Linked DNA regions of Homo sapiens. The protein of the gene in region 1 purifies or fractionates together with the protein of each later gene. This does not show direct contact. Each region holds a gene or a part of one and is shown on either strand. Other genes may lie near its edges.

The links.
Region 2: the proteins of PCSK1 (region 1) and HS6ST1 purify together in Homo sapiens (affinity purification with mass spectrometry; one large-scale study listed by BioGRID and IntAct). This does not show direct contact.
Region 3: the proteins of PCSK1 (region 1) and ACADSB purify together in Homo sapiens (affinity purification with mass spectrometry; one large-scale study listed by BioGRID and IntAct). This does not show direct contact.
Region 4: the proteins of PCSK1 (region 1) and BDH2 purify together in Homo sapiens (affinity purification with mass spectrometry; one large-scale study listed by BioGRID and IntAct). This does not show direct contact.

Annotation. Positions count from the first base shown.
Region 1 is NC_000005.10:96,430,408-96,434,485, reverse strand, and holds the start of PCSK1 (neuroendocrine convertase 1 isoform 1 preproprotein), read left to right. Parts: upstream 1-1,237; 5' UTR 1,238-1,443; coding exon 1,444-1,623; intron 1,624-2,325; exon of another isoform or gene 2,326-2,364; coding exon of another isoform or gene 2,365-2,403; intron 2,404-4,078.
Region 2 is NC_000002.12:128,308,821-128,312,386, reverse strand, and holds part of HS6ST1 (heparan-sulfate 6-O-sulfotransferase 1), read left to right. Parts: intron 1-3,566. UniProt on the Homo sapiens protein: 6-O-sulfation enzyme which catalyzes the transfer of sulfate from 3'-phosphoadenosine 5'-phosphosulfate (PAPS) to position 6 of the N-sulfoglucosamine residue (GlcNS) of heparan sulfate.
Region 3 is NC_000010.11:123,043,450-123,047,015, forward strand, and holds part of ACADSB (short/branched chain specific acyl-CoA dehydrogenase, mitochondrial isoform 1 precursor), read left to right. Parts: intron 1-943; coding exon 944-1,036; intron 1,037-3,566. UniProt on the Homo sapiens protein: Short and branched chain specific acyl-CoA dehydrogenase that catalyzes the removal of one hydrogen from C-2 and C-3 of the fatty acyl-CoA thioester, resulting in the formation of trans-2-enoyl-CoA.
Region 4 is NC_000004.12:103,086,322-103,089,887, reverse strand, and holds part of BDH2 (dehydrogenase/reductase SDR family member 6), read left to right. Parts: intron 1-3,347; coding exon 3,348-3,408; coding exon of another isoform or gene 3,409-3,512; exon of another isoform or gene 3,513-3,566. UniProt on the Homo sapiens protein: NAD(H)-dependent dehydrogenase/reductase with a preference for cyclic substrates. Catalyzes stereoselective conversion of 4-oxo-L-proline to cis-4-hydroxy-L-proline, likely a detoxification mechanism for ketoprolines.

The DNA.
Region 1 (4,078 bases):
TCCCCCCTGCGGCCAATTTCCTATTTTGCTGTTCAAAAGAGGGAAATGCACATATCAAAAGGAAAACAGCTTGGTGCTGGCCAGCTGCAGAAGGGTGGAGGTCTTTGGTGCTCAGAAGAGAGAGCAGCTCCTGCGGCAGTCCTGCGTGTGTCGCTGTCCAGACCTCGGTGCTGAATACTAGGCACTGGTATCTCCCGCCAGGTTCAATCCCTCAGGGTTCGAATAGGCTCCACCATGGGAGACTGAACTCACTTCCCTAGGGTGAGGGGTGGAGAATTCATTTAGATGTTTCCTTGCTCTCCTCCCACAGGAAACCATTTTTCCACAAAGAGGCATTGTGCATTTTATGGGAAAGTAATGGCACAGCTCCAGCTCAGCACCAAAGTGAAGAGCTCTACTGAGGCACAATGGAAAGTCGAGGTAAATAAAAACTGCTCTTTCCCTCCCTGAATCAACACAACAGCTTTTGGGATCCTAGATCCCCTTGTTGACGAATTCTTAAAAATATGTTTTTTTAAAATCACATGATTAATCATTTTACTGATAAACACCCTAAAAGGTGGTGGTGGCGCTGGCTTTGCAATATCGGAGTATAACTACTGATATTGTTTTACTGAGGTTGAGAAACAAAGGGGAGGAGGGAAGTAAACTTGTAAACTAAGGTGGCTTGAATGGTTAAAAATTCATTTTTAATAGTATTGCTTTAACATAGACATGCTAATTTTCTCAGACAATTTAGAACAGAATTGGGACAGTAGTAGCTTCCCTTCTTCTCCTTACTCTCCTAGCCTCTCTCTTTGAAAGACCTAAGAGCCTTGTTCTTCATAGCAGGTGCTGATGCCCAAAGGGCCATTATAAGAATCCTATAGCCTCCCCCCCTCCCCGCCACACACATGAGATAATAAAGTAAATACAGAGAAAATGGATGGAAGGGAGGGAAAGCACTCCCAGCCTTTGATTCTTGGTAGTTATGTTCAAGTGGGGCACTTCTCTTTGAAAAGTGAAAATGTTTCTCACGGTACAGAATTTATGGGCAGACAAGGAGCAGACTTAACTGATCCCAGCAAACAGTTCCTTCCTTTTCCTAATCCCTGGCTGCTTATTTTAGCCGCTTCTCCGCCCCGCCGGGAATACCATTCGGATCTTAGTCCAGGTAGATCTGACGTCAAGAGATGGCTTTCGTCGATTTGACGTGTAAACACTCATTTCCATTCTGGCTGGGAAGGGCTGGGGCTCCACTCAGCCTGGAGACCGAAGCGCTTCACTGAGCGCTCGCCGCCGCCCAGCCTCTCCTCTCGCGCCTCCTAGCTCTTCGCAGAGCAACCAGGAGCCAGGAGTGGTCTAGAGCCCGAGGGTGGGAAGGGGGAGTCTGTCTGGCTTTTCTCCTATCTTGCTTCTTTTTCCTCTTCCCTTCCCACTCTTGTTCAAGCGAGTGTGTGAGCTATGGAGCGAAGAGCCTGGAGTCTGCAGTGCACTGCTTTCGTCCTCTTTTGCGCTTGGTGTGCACTGAACAGTGCAAAAGCGAAAAGGCAATTTGTCAATGAATGGGCAGCGGAGATCCCCGGGGGCCCGGAAGCAGCCTCGGCCATCGCCGAGGAGCTGGGCTATGACCTTTTGGGTCAGGTAAGAGTTTCCACTTTCAAGAAACTTTCTGGGGCCCCAGGGGACTGGCGGGACTGGAGCGCGGTCTTCCAAGTGGGAGCCCCAGGTTGCACTCTCCAGAGCCCAGAGTAGCAAAGAGCAAGGAGCTGCTCCAGCCCTCGCCCCTGTCGCGCTTGGAGAGAGAGAAAGCTTGCATTATTTACTGTTTAGGCTGGGCGCAGCCAAGCAGAAGGAAGCCGCTGCAGCTGGGTAGGGCTTATGCTTACTGTTGGCCGCTCTAGAATTGAAATCCGTTCCCGCGCGGTTTGGAAGAAAAATCCCTCCACGCTTGTTCAGGGAACTTGAGATACACTCAAGCTCTTACCAACCAAGCGCCCCCGGGAGAAGCAGTGCGCTCCATCCCCCGGGACTGAGGCGGTCTGCGTCAGGAGCCGGCTGTTGCCTTCTTTTCAATATGGCAGCATCAGATCCAAGTCCTGATGCAAGGGGCTAAGCAGGCTTGGGGCTGTCCGCCCTGGCAGCCTGTAAGGGCACGCCCAGGGCATTGGAAGAGTGCCAGCTGCTGGGACTCGCGACCAGGAGGTTGGGAGGCCGCGGAGTAGCCTGGGAAGCTGGGGGGAGAAATGGTGGGTGAAAGACACGGGACCATCTATCCCCGCGACTCTCTAGGGAGCTCCGGCTTTTCACTGGGAACTTATAAAGTCCAAGCTTCATAACTTTGCCCGGCCAGTCCCACTGCAGGGTCGAGATGCCGAACTGACTATGGGGAAGGGATCTATTTCTTTCTTGTTCTTCAGCCAAGTACGTAATCGTTTTCCCGGGAATTTCAGCTTATTGTTGCCTGTCCAAGTGAAGGCTTGGTCGATAGGTAGCTGGTTGGAGGTGGGTGGGCGTCAAGACATTAAGTGGGAGACTGCTTATAGCTGAGCGATTCCGAGGGGACCCTAGGGAGTGTGACTTCTAGTCTAGAGCTTTCCTTTCCTTGGCTCGGAATCAAGCCCTCGCCCCCTGCTTGGGAAGTTGGTCTGCATTGAAGCGTGGGAGGAGGCAGTTGTAAAACATTTTGGCGCGTTTTTTCTGGAGGTGGTGGTTGAGACGCCGCTGGAGTCACGGATGAGTAATCGGCGGGGGCGTTGGCGATTCTGTAGACCGAACCCTCTGGGGAATTCGCCTGCTCTTGCTAGAGGCTTCATTCTCAACTTTATAAACCAAATTGTCTTTGAAATGCCCGAAAGGAAAATCAATGCAGATTGGCTTCCTGGTGTCCCAGCAGCAGATGAGTCTTTTGCTTTTGGCCAGCCCTTGCCCTCGTGCCAGGCTCCGTGTTAGGGGCTGAGGAATAAGAGGAGGGAAAGAAACGCTCTCAAGTAATCAAGAATCTAGAGGAGACTAGCTTAGAGATAAATGATTGCAACTGATTGTAATTTGTGTAATCATAGAAGTTGTACTTGAAGTCTCAATATTCATTGGTTGAAGGAATGAAAGTAGTAGGGAATTCGGGAGGGGTGAATGAAAACTGCCCAAAGGAGAAAACATTTGCTCCGGGAACAGAAGTCAAAGGTTGCCAGGAGCACATAATGAGATCGGAGAAGACAGTCTAGGCATAGAAAACAGCTTGTGGGAAAACAGTGAGACATAATACAGTTTAGTAGTAAGTCTGGGAATTGCACGCAATTATTAGGAATTTTTGAGACCCAAAGAGGGTATGAGTAGCAGAGGAAATTGTGCTGGTGGGTACTGTGGACATCATACAAATCATGTATGACCTATGGGGGTGGACACTGGGGATTTAATTGTGTATTCCTTGAGCAGCTACTGAAAGGCTAAATAGCACTGGTAACCGTGTAGGAGGAGACTGGGGAAGACAGCAAAAACTAAATCTCTCTTCTTTTTCCCACCTGTTAGCTCTAGGCATGCATCTAAACCTAGACCATTCAATGTGAAAACTGCTTTTCAAAATAAATAAACATAAATCTTAATAGTAAAAAACAATACATCATCATTCTTGGGAGGATCTTTGAGTAAGGGATAGCATAGTCACAAAAGCATTAACAAATAGTGGGGGAAAACCATCTATATTTATATATGATTTACAATACTATCTTTCCTCTAACCATTTTTAGTTAAGATGGCATTACTAACAAAAGTTTTAAAACAAACTTAACAAAATTATTTTATTAGAATAATAATTCTTTGTAGAAGGCTGATAGCACGTTCCTGGTTCTGCTTATTTCTCTTTTTGTTTAATATTACTAAAATTACACTAATTTAGCATTACTATATTGGGTACCTTATTGCCTCAGGATAAAGCTTGGATTAAGGTAGTGACAAGAAGAAAAACCAGTTGACAGCAGAGAAAACAGAGCTAAGCACTGGTGATCTTTTTCTGCGGCTGCTGATTTCTCTCCCCAGTTCCATCCACAGCTTATAGGAAGATTCACTGAGATTCAGGCTTGGAGCAGGGCCTAAGCTTCTC
Region 2 (3,566 bases), on another chromosome or scaffold:
GGACCCAACACTCCCCCAAGACAAGTATATGAAGAGCAGCCCCATTTTCCACACAAGGAAGTCAGGCCCCAGAGAAGGTGGAGAATGTGTCAGTCCCTCAGCCTGGAGGGCCAGGAGCTAGCATGTGGACATCTGTCTGTCTGTCCTGAAGGCTGTATGCCGCACCCAGCCCTCTGCTCCCAGCAACCCCTGCATGCGCATGGAAGGCTGTCTGCAGGTGGGGGCGATTGCCGCTGGCCCAGACCAGCCAGATGTAGAACACTAGGGCTTCTGAGACCTGGGCAGACATGGGCAGTTTCACATGTAGGCCTGTGTCGTTGCGTTTACTGGAAGACACCTGGCAGCCTTCACTCAGAGCAGAAGGACAGGCATCATGCCTGGGCTCTGGGCTCTGCAAAGGTAGTGCTGGCAAGGCTGCCTGAGAGTCGGCCCCTGGCAGCAGAGACTGCCCATGGCGGTGCTTGGCTCCTGGCGCAGTGTGGCCACCCCTTCTGCCACCTCCCCCATAAGATTGGGCTGTTTTCAGGTACTCCTCTGGTCCTGCACCACCGATGCCACCACCGGCCCAGGGAGGATCAGCCCTGCAGGAGGCAGTGCTGTGAGCCTGTGTGGGTGCAGGTGGGTCTAGGCCATCCCTCTGCTCCAGTGTCCTTGCTCTGCCCCAGTGAATGCTGGAGGGTGAGGAGATGGGAAACCCAGGAGTCTCCCCAACCCCTCAGCTTCCCTCTCTGGGTGCCATCACCATCCCATGTGGCATTTTGTGGGGCTGCATACCCCCTCTATGAAAGACTGTGGGGTGTTTCTAGGTCAGACCTCAAGCATCACGGAGGCAGCAGGACTGGGCTCAATCCCCACTTGGTGGTAGCGTGTGGTGGGTCTTTGGGTTTGAGGCGGGAAGAGCATGAGAAGCCGAGCTCTGGGGAGCAGTTACTGAGTGGTAGCATGTGGGGCCCAGTCAGATGGGAGCCCCACTGGAAGGGCTGCATGATTCAGGCGGGAGGCAGACTCGGGCCATCCCCTGCCAGCACTTTTCGGGCACTTCTCTGCAGCCACCTGGACACTCACTGGCACCTGCTCTCCTCTCCTTGAGGCCCACTCCACAGCAGTATTTATAGGTGAGGTGACATTTTGTTTGCAAGAAGGTTTTCATCTCTTAAGACTGTTCTTGCCTTCTCAGAAACTCAGTTGGCTCTGTGAAGATTTGCTGTCTGTTTTGGGTTTGGGTGGGGTATGTTATGCTGAAAAAAATAGTCCTAGACCTAGGGGATGAGGTTGCTCCAGCCAAATGACAGTGAGCTGGTGGTAGCCAGAGGTGTGGGCTGCAGTGCCCTGAGGGAGTGGAAAAGCCTCCCACACACAGGGTTTTGCAGGATGAGCGGGGTGTGGAGTGGAAGCAGCACTCAGAAAGCACAGTTGGGTTTCAGACACATCATGCGAGACCCCGCCACTCACAGCAAGGGGGGGCAGTGGAGATGGGACGGCATGAGTGGAGAGGGGCCCCTGCAAGCAGGCCAGTTGCTTTCTGACTGTGGGACTTGTGGCCTAATCTCTTTGTTCCTTTCCTGAAAGTGCCCCTTTCCTGATAGGGCATTGTCCCAAGTCCCCAGCTTGCAAGGGATGTTGTTTTGGAAAAACATGGCAGGTACACGCCCACACAGGAGTGTTCAAGTGCTGATCCCAGACCACCCAACCCAGGGTGGAGGCTGTTAGAGGACATTTAGGATCCACAGGTGGGCAGAGGGAGGATGTCCAGCCACCAGAGACCACACACATCCTACCCCAGCCGTGGTGAAGATGGGGCTGTTTTCCTTGACCATGGAGCAAAAACCATCCAGGACAGCTCTCCCCCTCCATGCCACCAGTTGCTCCTGAGCCAGCTCTGTGGGTGCTGGGAGCTGCGCTAAGGATTTGCACCTGTCCCCACCAGCTTGTGGCCTTCTGCTGCCGCGGTGCCTCTGCCCTGAACTCCCTCTAGGGCTCAGGACCTTTGGGGCCTCACACCTACCCCACTGTTGGTCCTTGATTCCTTGACTCACACAGCGTGTGGTCTGGGGCTGGGGCTGGGGCCCAGCTCACTGCGGGGGGATGCCTGTGGGGGTGACACGCCGCAAGTTCCACGGGGCCACCTCGGGAGGTCTTGGGTCCTCTCTGTGCAGACCAGGCGCTGAGGCTGCGGTGGAGGGCAGGGAATCCATAGGGATTCAGCTGCCTGCTCAGGCCCTGGGCTGTGTGTTGGGTGGGCTTCTGGAAAGCTCTGCTGGGAGTCCAAGGAAGAGAGGAGTGCCCTGGGCAGCCCCTCCTACCTTGTGGCTGGAGCCGGTGGGTCTCATGGGCCCAGATAGATACCTGTCTGAGCCTCAGTCTTCCCATCTCTAAAAGGGGGGTGGCAGTCTGCCATTTGGTTCTGTAGAGGAACCAGTGACTTATTAACTGTGACCGTGGTGACCGCATGATCCCTCAGCCACGGACTGTGTCCATGTCTTATGGGAGCCATGGCCACTCATAACCCCTTAGCATTCTGCAGCCTAGTGCAGGCCCAGTTCCTCATCTGGAGAGCGAGCCGTCAGCAGCTGTCCGCGTGCCATGGGGAGACTGACCGCGGGGCCAGGGCTTCAGTGAGAGGCAGCTCCCGACAGCCTGCACCTGGCCTGCCTTTGAAGGCCACACGTGACCAGCACAGCTGCCTAGGATTATTTACACAGAGAACGTTAAAAGGCCCAACAGGAGGGCCATCAGAGCAAATCACTAATTGTCTGGAAAGATACAAACTGGAGAGATTGAAACTCTGGAGTTAATTGTTTACGAAGCTTTGAAGGCCACAGAGGTCAGTGGCCGTGGGTGACCGCCCCCGGTGGTCATGGGCAGGGGCAGGGGCCTGTTATCTCCCTGTGACAGGGCCTCCTGCTGGGGCAGGCCTGGTCCTTGTCCAGGATCCCAGCTGTTCCCTAGGAGGGGCTCTCCACTGGTCAGCCCAGGCCGCTGCTCAGAAGCTGTATCAGGTGGACATCTCTGGGGCCAGCCCAGTTTGCATTCTAGCTCTGGCCCCATTCCTGCCTGGAGAAGTTGGGAACATTCAACCTCATTTTCTTTTCCCACCTCACGGAGTGGTAGGAGATGAGAGTTCACTCTGTAAGCTCCACACTATCCTTCACCCTCCACAGCAAACTAGGACAGAAGGTTCTATGGGTAACCCAGCAACAAGGAGGGCAGGTGAGGCTGGCCAAGACCCACCTCGGGGCTGGGAAACCCCGGGACCATACCAGGGGTGTCAGCAGAGCAAAAGAGAGGCCCCAGGCTTGCAGTCAGACCAGCTGGGCCAAATCCTGGCTTTGCATCTCACAGGCTTCTGCAGCTCAGGTTCCCCATCTGTAAAATGGGCATACTCATAGTGCCTGTGCAGGAGGTAGACAGTTGGAATTATACCCACAGTTCCACTGTGGCCTCTGTACTATAAGAGGCTAGAATCTGACCCATCTGTCCTGGAGACAGGGAAGAGACCTCCAGAGCCAGCTAGGAAGTCAGCTCTTGTTCTCACTCCATGAATTAGTTGGTTTGCAGGGAGCTTC
Region 3 (3,566 bases), on another chromosome or scaffold:
TTTATAAGCTTGAGACTTGTGAACCAAATGGGGCCGCAGAGAAGGAAGTCTGGTGTCAGTGCACTAAAGGCCACAAGATGGGGGTGTTGCTCAGTGAGAGCGGAAACAGCCAGGCTATTAAACGTGAGCAGCAGAAGATCCAGATAGTTAGTGCTGATGCTGGAGAACTCCCTGTAGGTGGGGCAGGTGGTGTCGGCTTTTCCACCACTCATCACAGAGCTTGATCTTTTTTTTGCATGGCTGTGGGGAGTGAGGGGGAGGATGTCTTTACAGATGTCACTGGGGCCTCATTACTTCACCCCAACTGTTTTCCTCATTCTTACTTTCCCATTTCTTTCTCCATTCTTCCCTGCTCTCTCCCCCAACTACCCATATTACAAAACTAAGTATAGTTTTTTATTATTCTTAATTCTTTATTTTTTTAAAGTATGAATAAGCATTTTAGTCTGTTTCTTCTCTCTTCCTCTTTCTTGTGCATACACCTGTGTACACACATGCACACACACATATACCCCACCGTTGATTTTTATGAGGGTGAATGGTCTCAACAGCAGAAAGGCTTACTACACTTGTTTTTGCAAGTATTTGCAGATCTTTGTAGTTCCTAATATGTTATCTCACACTGTAGCCTACAGATAAGAATTGGGGGGGAAAAGTATTAATTTATGTTATTGATGAATTCTATGAGATTCCCTTACTCTAGATTCACTCATCCATTCAATACCTGTGCAAGGCTCTGGAGGATGCAATCATGAACAGCATGGACTTGAGTCCTTTTCCTCAGAGAGCTGTGGAAAAACAGCGTAGAGGGAGACACAGATGCCGGCAAGTTCTGTGAGAGGGCTAGCACACGAATTGAGAGTCTATGTGTACTTACAAATATATAATCAAAATGAATCATGGAAAATGAAACTGAGAAATAAGTGCACATTTGTATTTTCAGGTTCCAGAAGCCAATATCTTGGGACAAATTGGACATGGCTATAAGTATGCCATAGGGAGTCTCAATGAAGGTAGAATAGGAATTGCTGCACAGGTAAGTCAGATTTAAACTCTTCCATGATGTGAGTCAATTAAACTGTGAAAAGAAAAAAATGCAATGAGACCAATGAATATTTGGAAGCTTATGGACACAAGATGGCACCGTTCCCTTACATGAGGGATAGAATGGCTTATTATTTCTTTCAAATTCCCTTTTGGTCAATTATGTAAGTGTCCATAGAACCAAACAATGGCTTGGTGGTAACAGTGTTTCTGCTTTGAGAACATTAAAGTATTATCTAATACCTGAACCGATAGCTTTTCAAATGTATTGTAAATTAAATATGGCACTTTAAAAAAAATCAACTTTTCAAAGCATGAAATTCATTCTGGAAGGAATTTTTTACATTAAGAATAAATAATATTCCTTCCACTGTGTAGTAAAGATATCTATAGTTAATAAAAGATTTGTTGCTTACTGTTTTGCATGTGAAAACTGGGCAAGTTTTTTGGCGGCACATGAAATAAAATAGCCACAGTTAAGTAGATACATAAAATGAGAACTATTCAAAATTTTTTTTTACCAAATTTGGCTTTTATAATGCATATTGCATTTTTCTATTAAGTAATATCAGTTATTTTCCAGATTAACAAAATGAATAAGGTCTTTGGCTTTACTTTAGTGTCAGTTTTGTAGAGTGTATATATATATATATATATATATATATATATATATATATATTTTTTTTTTTTTTTTTTTTTTTTTGAGATGGAGTCTTGCTCTGTTGCCCAGGCCGGAGTGCAGTGGTGCGATCTCGGCTCACTGCAAGCTCCGCCTCCTGGGTTCATGCCATTCTCCTGCCTCAGCCTCCCGAGTAGCTGGGACTACAGGCGCCCGCCACCACGCCCAGCCAATTTTTTTTGTATTTTTAGTAGAGATGAGGTTTCACCATGTTAGCCAGGATGGTCTCAATCTCCTGACCTCGTGATCCACCCGCCTCGGCCTCCCAAAGTGCTGGGATTACAGGCGTGAGCCACCGCGCCCGGCGTTTGTAGAGTATATTTTTAATCAGTGATTATACAAAACTCAAGAACTTAGAGCTTTTCAGTTTTGAAGATGTTACATATAAGCTATTGGAATAAATATTAGATTATTACTCTAGATTTTTTTCTGCTGCTGTTACTTTGCTAACTATTTTTAGACCAAAACTTAGTCTAGTTTTCCTACAATGCTTGACAGTGTGTCACTAAAGAATATTGTTTTATCAGTTCTCTTAAAAGTTTTTCTGTGATTCAACTTAGACATGACATTAGAAACTGCAATACTAGAGCTCATTTTTTTCAGACATATAAATAATATAGATGTTCTGGCAATAAAATACACAGCCTGGGCTTCAGTTTAATTACTCCAAGTTATATAATAACCTAATTAAAAGTTAAGATCAGGTAGTTACTATCTCAGTGGATACCTTTGAGAGGAAGAGGCACACGGAGTATAACAGTGAACTGAAGGCATCTGTCCTCGAAACCTTGCAGGCAGAGAGAATTCAGTTTTTCAGTGTTTGTAGTAGAAACATTTTACTGAGGTAGAAAAGCCCATTTTGATGGATAACTGATTATTTCAGTCTTCGTGTCAATATAGGGTATTATTTATGTACAAATTTTAGCTGTAAGGGTATAGTGACATCATCTTATCTCACAGCCAAGAGTGCAGTGAGTCTGCTGCCTCATTTGAATTTGGGGTTTGTGGTTTTCTTGTGCCTTTAATTTTTAACATATTATTCTGTTCTCTAGAGAGTTCAGAATAAAAGACTAAAAGAAAATGTGAATGAATACTAATGAAATAAATTGATAAGTCTGCTGGGCATTTCCCCCAAAAGCTTTAGCTATTGATTTTCTAAAACCATAATTTGACATAATTACTGATTTAGTGGCTACCTAATGTTGAAATTTAGAAACGATTTCTAAGCTTGAATCATATAATAGATATGAAAGTTGGTTAGCAGTGAGACAGTTCAGCTAAAATTGTCACCACGTCCTGTGTAAATTAATGTTTTTACTAGATGCTTTCTATCCATTGTTCTCAACCCTAGCTGTGTATTAAGTCACTAAGGAGTTTTACAGAGTTGAGGTTTAGGTCACACTCCTTCACCTACTCTACTCCCAAGATTTGGATTCAGTCATTAGGCCTGGGTATCAGTATTGTTTTAAATCAGATTCCCCAAATGATTCTATGGTACAGCTCGGATTCAGAACCACTGCTCTCTTATGTTCTAATGCCCTCCCATTGAAGCTCTCATTAATCCTAATCATATACAAAATAGACGGAAAGGTAGAAAGTTAAGAAGTGACCTTCCATATTTTACTTCTAGAAGAACTGGAGGGCCTTCCTCTATAGCCTTCAAGGCCAGTTCTGAGCAAAACTTCTATGGCTCATTTTATACCTGGAGAATCAAAGCTTAAGGAAGATTCCTAAAGAGTAATCTTAACCTAAAAAGGTTGTGTGAACACAGCCTTGCTGGGAGATTTACCTCTGCTAGAATTAAATGTGCTCATATTCACATGAAATCACTCAAAATTTTCTC
Region 4 (3,566 bases), on another chromosome or scaffold:
CCACAGAATGTTGAACTAGCAAATTTTTATAACAAATTGTTTTTTTTAATGTAAGTTGATTTTTTAGCCTATTTGGAGTTTATGAGAAACTATAGTATTTGGAACACGAATGTATTTTTGAAGACAGATCCTTTGCATAGGTTACAGGGGTAGAGCAGAGACTGTGGTATAGGAGGAAAGCTTAGGTCATCGTGGGTAAGACTGTTGCACATGCATGAGACTCATTTGCAAAACCAGGCTCTAAAATGCTTTACAAATTTTAGTAAAGGAAGTAGGTGTGGAGTACAGTGGAGCTGAAATGTAAACTTGTGTTAATTTTTAAAATATACAAACATTAACTTGCAAACTAGTGAGTTTGCTTGTGATTTACAATATCTTAACAATTATCCATGTGGGCCAAAAACACAGATTTGTTTAAAAAAAAATCCCAAGAGATGTTAATGGCAGGAATATGGTATTAGTGCCTCTTGTTTAAAGTGACCTTGACAAAATCGAATCCTGGTCTTGGACTCTATCATCAGAAGTCCTTAGGTGCAGTCTGCGCCCTGCCCCTAATTGGCCATGTGCCATAGAGATGGCACTTGTACCCTCTCAGTACATATTTCTTTTAGCTAAAAAATGAGGATGATAGGTTACACAATCACTTCCAGCCATAATTATCTATGATCCTCTGTATCATTAACTATGACACACATATCCCATGTTAGAACTTTCCAGGGGAAGCTAGGATTTGGAGTCTAGGCAGCTCTGGAAGGTCAGCTGGTCAGAACATAGGAACACTCATAGGAAATTTTTATTCATGGATAGATACACAGGAAAGCATTCCAAGACTGGAAGATCAGTCAAAAGGCAGAGAACAAGTTGAAAATACTTTAAGAAGAGGTCAATGCAGAATCCAGGCTCCACCAGAAGAGAAGATCCATTAGGGCAAAGATTTGGGGATATCTTTGTTATTTGGGTTGGTTTGTTTGCTTGCTTTTTTCCCCCACCTTGCTGTGTCTTAGAAGAGTCTTCAGCGTATAGAGGTGCTCCACAAACATTTGTCAAATAAATAAATGAATCAAGGTTGTTAGTCCAGCAGGAACCACTGGAGACCCAAGTGGCCAGGTTCCACCAGGGTTAGGGGCTGAGCTCTGGCCAATGGAGACAGAAGGGCTGGGTCAGAGTAAGACTAACTAGATACAGCTCCAGGGACTCTTAAGGGGTATTTCTAGCCCCTACCTAAGCTTCTGGGAGGTCAATCCTAGATAGCAGTACTATGTACCAGGCACTTGACTTTATAGTCATGCCTGCCAGAGAAGGCTATTGCATGGGGAGCCAGGGAGAGCCTGACACCATGACGACAGCTCCTGACCTGGACTGGGAAGGCAGCATGGGAACAGGTACTGACTAGGGGCTCTAGAAGCAGCAGAGGGACCTCGGTTGAACTTGGTTGAATGGATAGTGCAAGTGTTAGGGGGCAGCACTAATGTAATGTCTCTTAGGTGGCTTTATTCTAAGGTTTTGCCTGAGATAATATTGCATTTCTAGAGAGGACTAGAGATTGAACCTACATAATAACCCATCTTTATGTATTAAATTGGGGTATATGTATTCTATATGTATTTTAAATGGGGAATGCTATTTGCTAAATTGGATAAGAAAGAACAATTTTAAGGCTTACTTTTCAACACCATTACACTTGACCAACATTCTTGACACTTTTTATGAGAACCCCATTTCATTATGATCCTCTTTATTATATAAAACACACAATTAAGTTAAACATTATTTTTTCCCCTGCTGTCTTCCTTAGCTTGGTTGGGTTACAGTCAGCCTCTCCTTGTATCCACTTACTCCATTCAGCATAGTGCCTTGGGGTTAGTTTAGATTCTGTTTTTAGGGGCAATTAGTAGCTAAATCTCAGAACAAAGTCAGAAGAATATCCTAAGAAATCAATCATCTTGGCCACACCAATCCTGGATCCATTCAATTATTTACTTTTTCCTTTCCTACACCTCTTTTTCTAAAAGCTGCTAAAGAAACTCGTCCCAACAGAAGTCATTTTTTTTCTCTGGCCCTTTACACTGCCTATTGAGACTTCTATGTACATGTTATAATTAGTAAAGTTTGAAAACATTTTTAAATTCATAGCAGTTTTCTTTATTATATATTTATTTAGCTATAGGACAGGGCCCAGCAATCTGTGTTTTAAACTAGCACCTCAGGAGATTCTGATTCATCAACATTTATTGACTGCCTACTGTGTACACTGTCTAGGAGGACAAAACAGCCAAAGACCCTCATCTTAATAAATTCACACTTTAGTGGGGGAATTCTGAAGAAGGTGTTCTTAGGAAACACTGCCCTAAATTGGTGAGGCCCACCATCCCTGCAGCAACCATCTACAAGGTCCTGCCCATCCTGCCTCAGCCCTCTCCTCCTCAGCTACCCATAGACATTTCTGCAGCTCCACCTTTATCACTCTTTCCTGAAGCCTGCATCAGCTTCCACTAGTCTCTGGGCACCACAGTAATCCTTGCAATCCCCAAGTCTGAACATGCCACTTCTCTGCTTTAAACCCTTCAGTGTCACTGCATCACCTTCAGGGTAAAACCCAGGTTCTAAATTCAGCCCTTGTTGACCTCTGCAGCCTCATTGCTTCCACACCCTGCATTCCAGCCAGACCCAGCCCCTCCTCCCAGTTCCCGATGGAACCTTTATACCTGTGTACCCACTCCTCAAAACATCCTTTTCTTTTATTTTTCTGACTAATACTCTAGTGTTCAAAATTCAGCCCATATCCTTCCTTCTCAGGAGGTCCCCTCTGAGTGTCGCCCAGCCTGAATTGCTCCCTTTCTGCCCTCACCCTGCTGTTAGATCTCTGTGGAGGTCTCTGCTGTGGCTGGATGTGGATTATGTGAGCCACTCTAACCAGACTGGTTGCCTCCTGTAGGCAGTAATCTCCTGGACCTAGCACAATACCTGGCCTCAGTAGGTATTCAAAAATTATGTGTTGAATGGAGTAAGTTTCCCAACATCAGTAACACACAATAACAACATTTATTCACATTTCATTTAAGTCAGCATTCACTCGTAGTCTTGCTGACATTCTTGTACCATGGGAAGGTGGTAATCCCCCTGGGAAATGCCAGTGAGTGCAGTCACATTGCCATCATTTCCCAGCAATAGTTGATGAGGTGTTTTGGGTTCACTGTTAAGACTGCTTAATAGTGCTTAATGTGACTAGCTAATACAGTAATTAAATTCATTCTGCAAACCCTAAGAAAATGCAAATCTTTTTAAAAGGTAGTATTTTAGCCCACAAAGTGGATTTTTTTTTTTTTGTATTTGTTTTGTTTTGGCAGATGCTTGCTCAGAAATCTGGCAATATTATCAACATGTCTTCTGTGGCTTCCAGCGTCAAAGGTGGGTCTGTCTCCTTCCGAGGACTGCGATGCTCATACACGCACATCATTAAGAGCTCTGCGTTTGGGAACAGGCATAGCAGAGATTATAATTTCAAGTATTGAAATGATTTCAAAACTGCTTTTTTCAAAATTGGTATTAAGTTCCTTAACCACAGA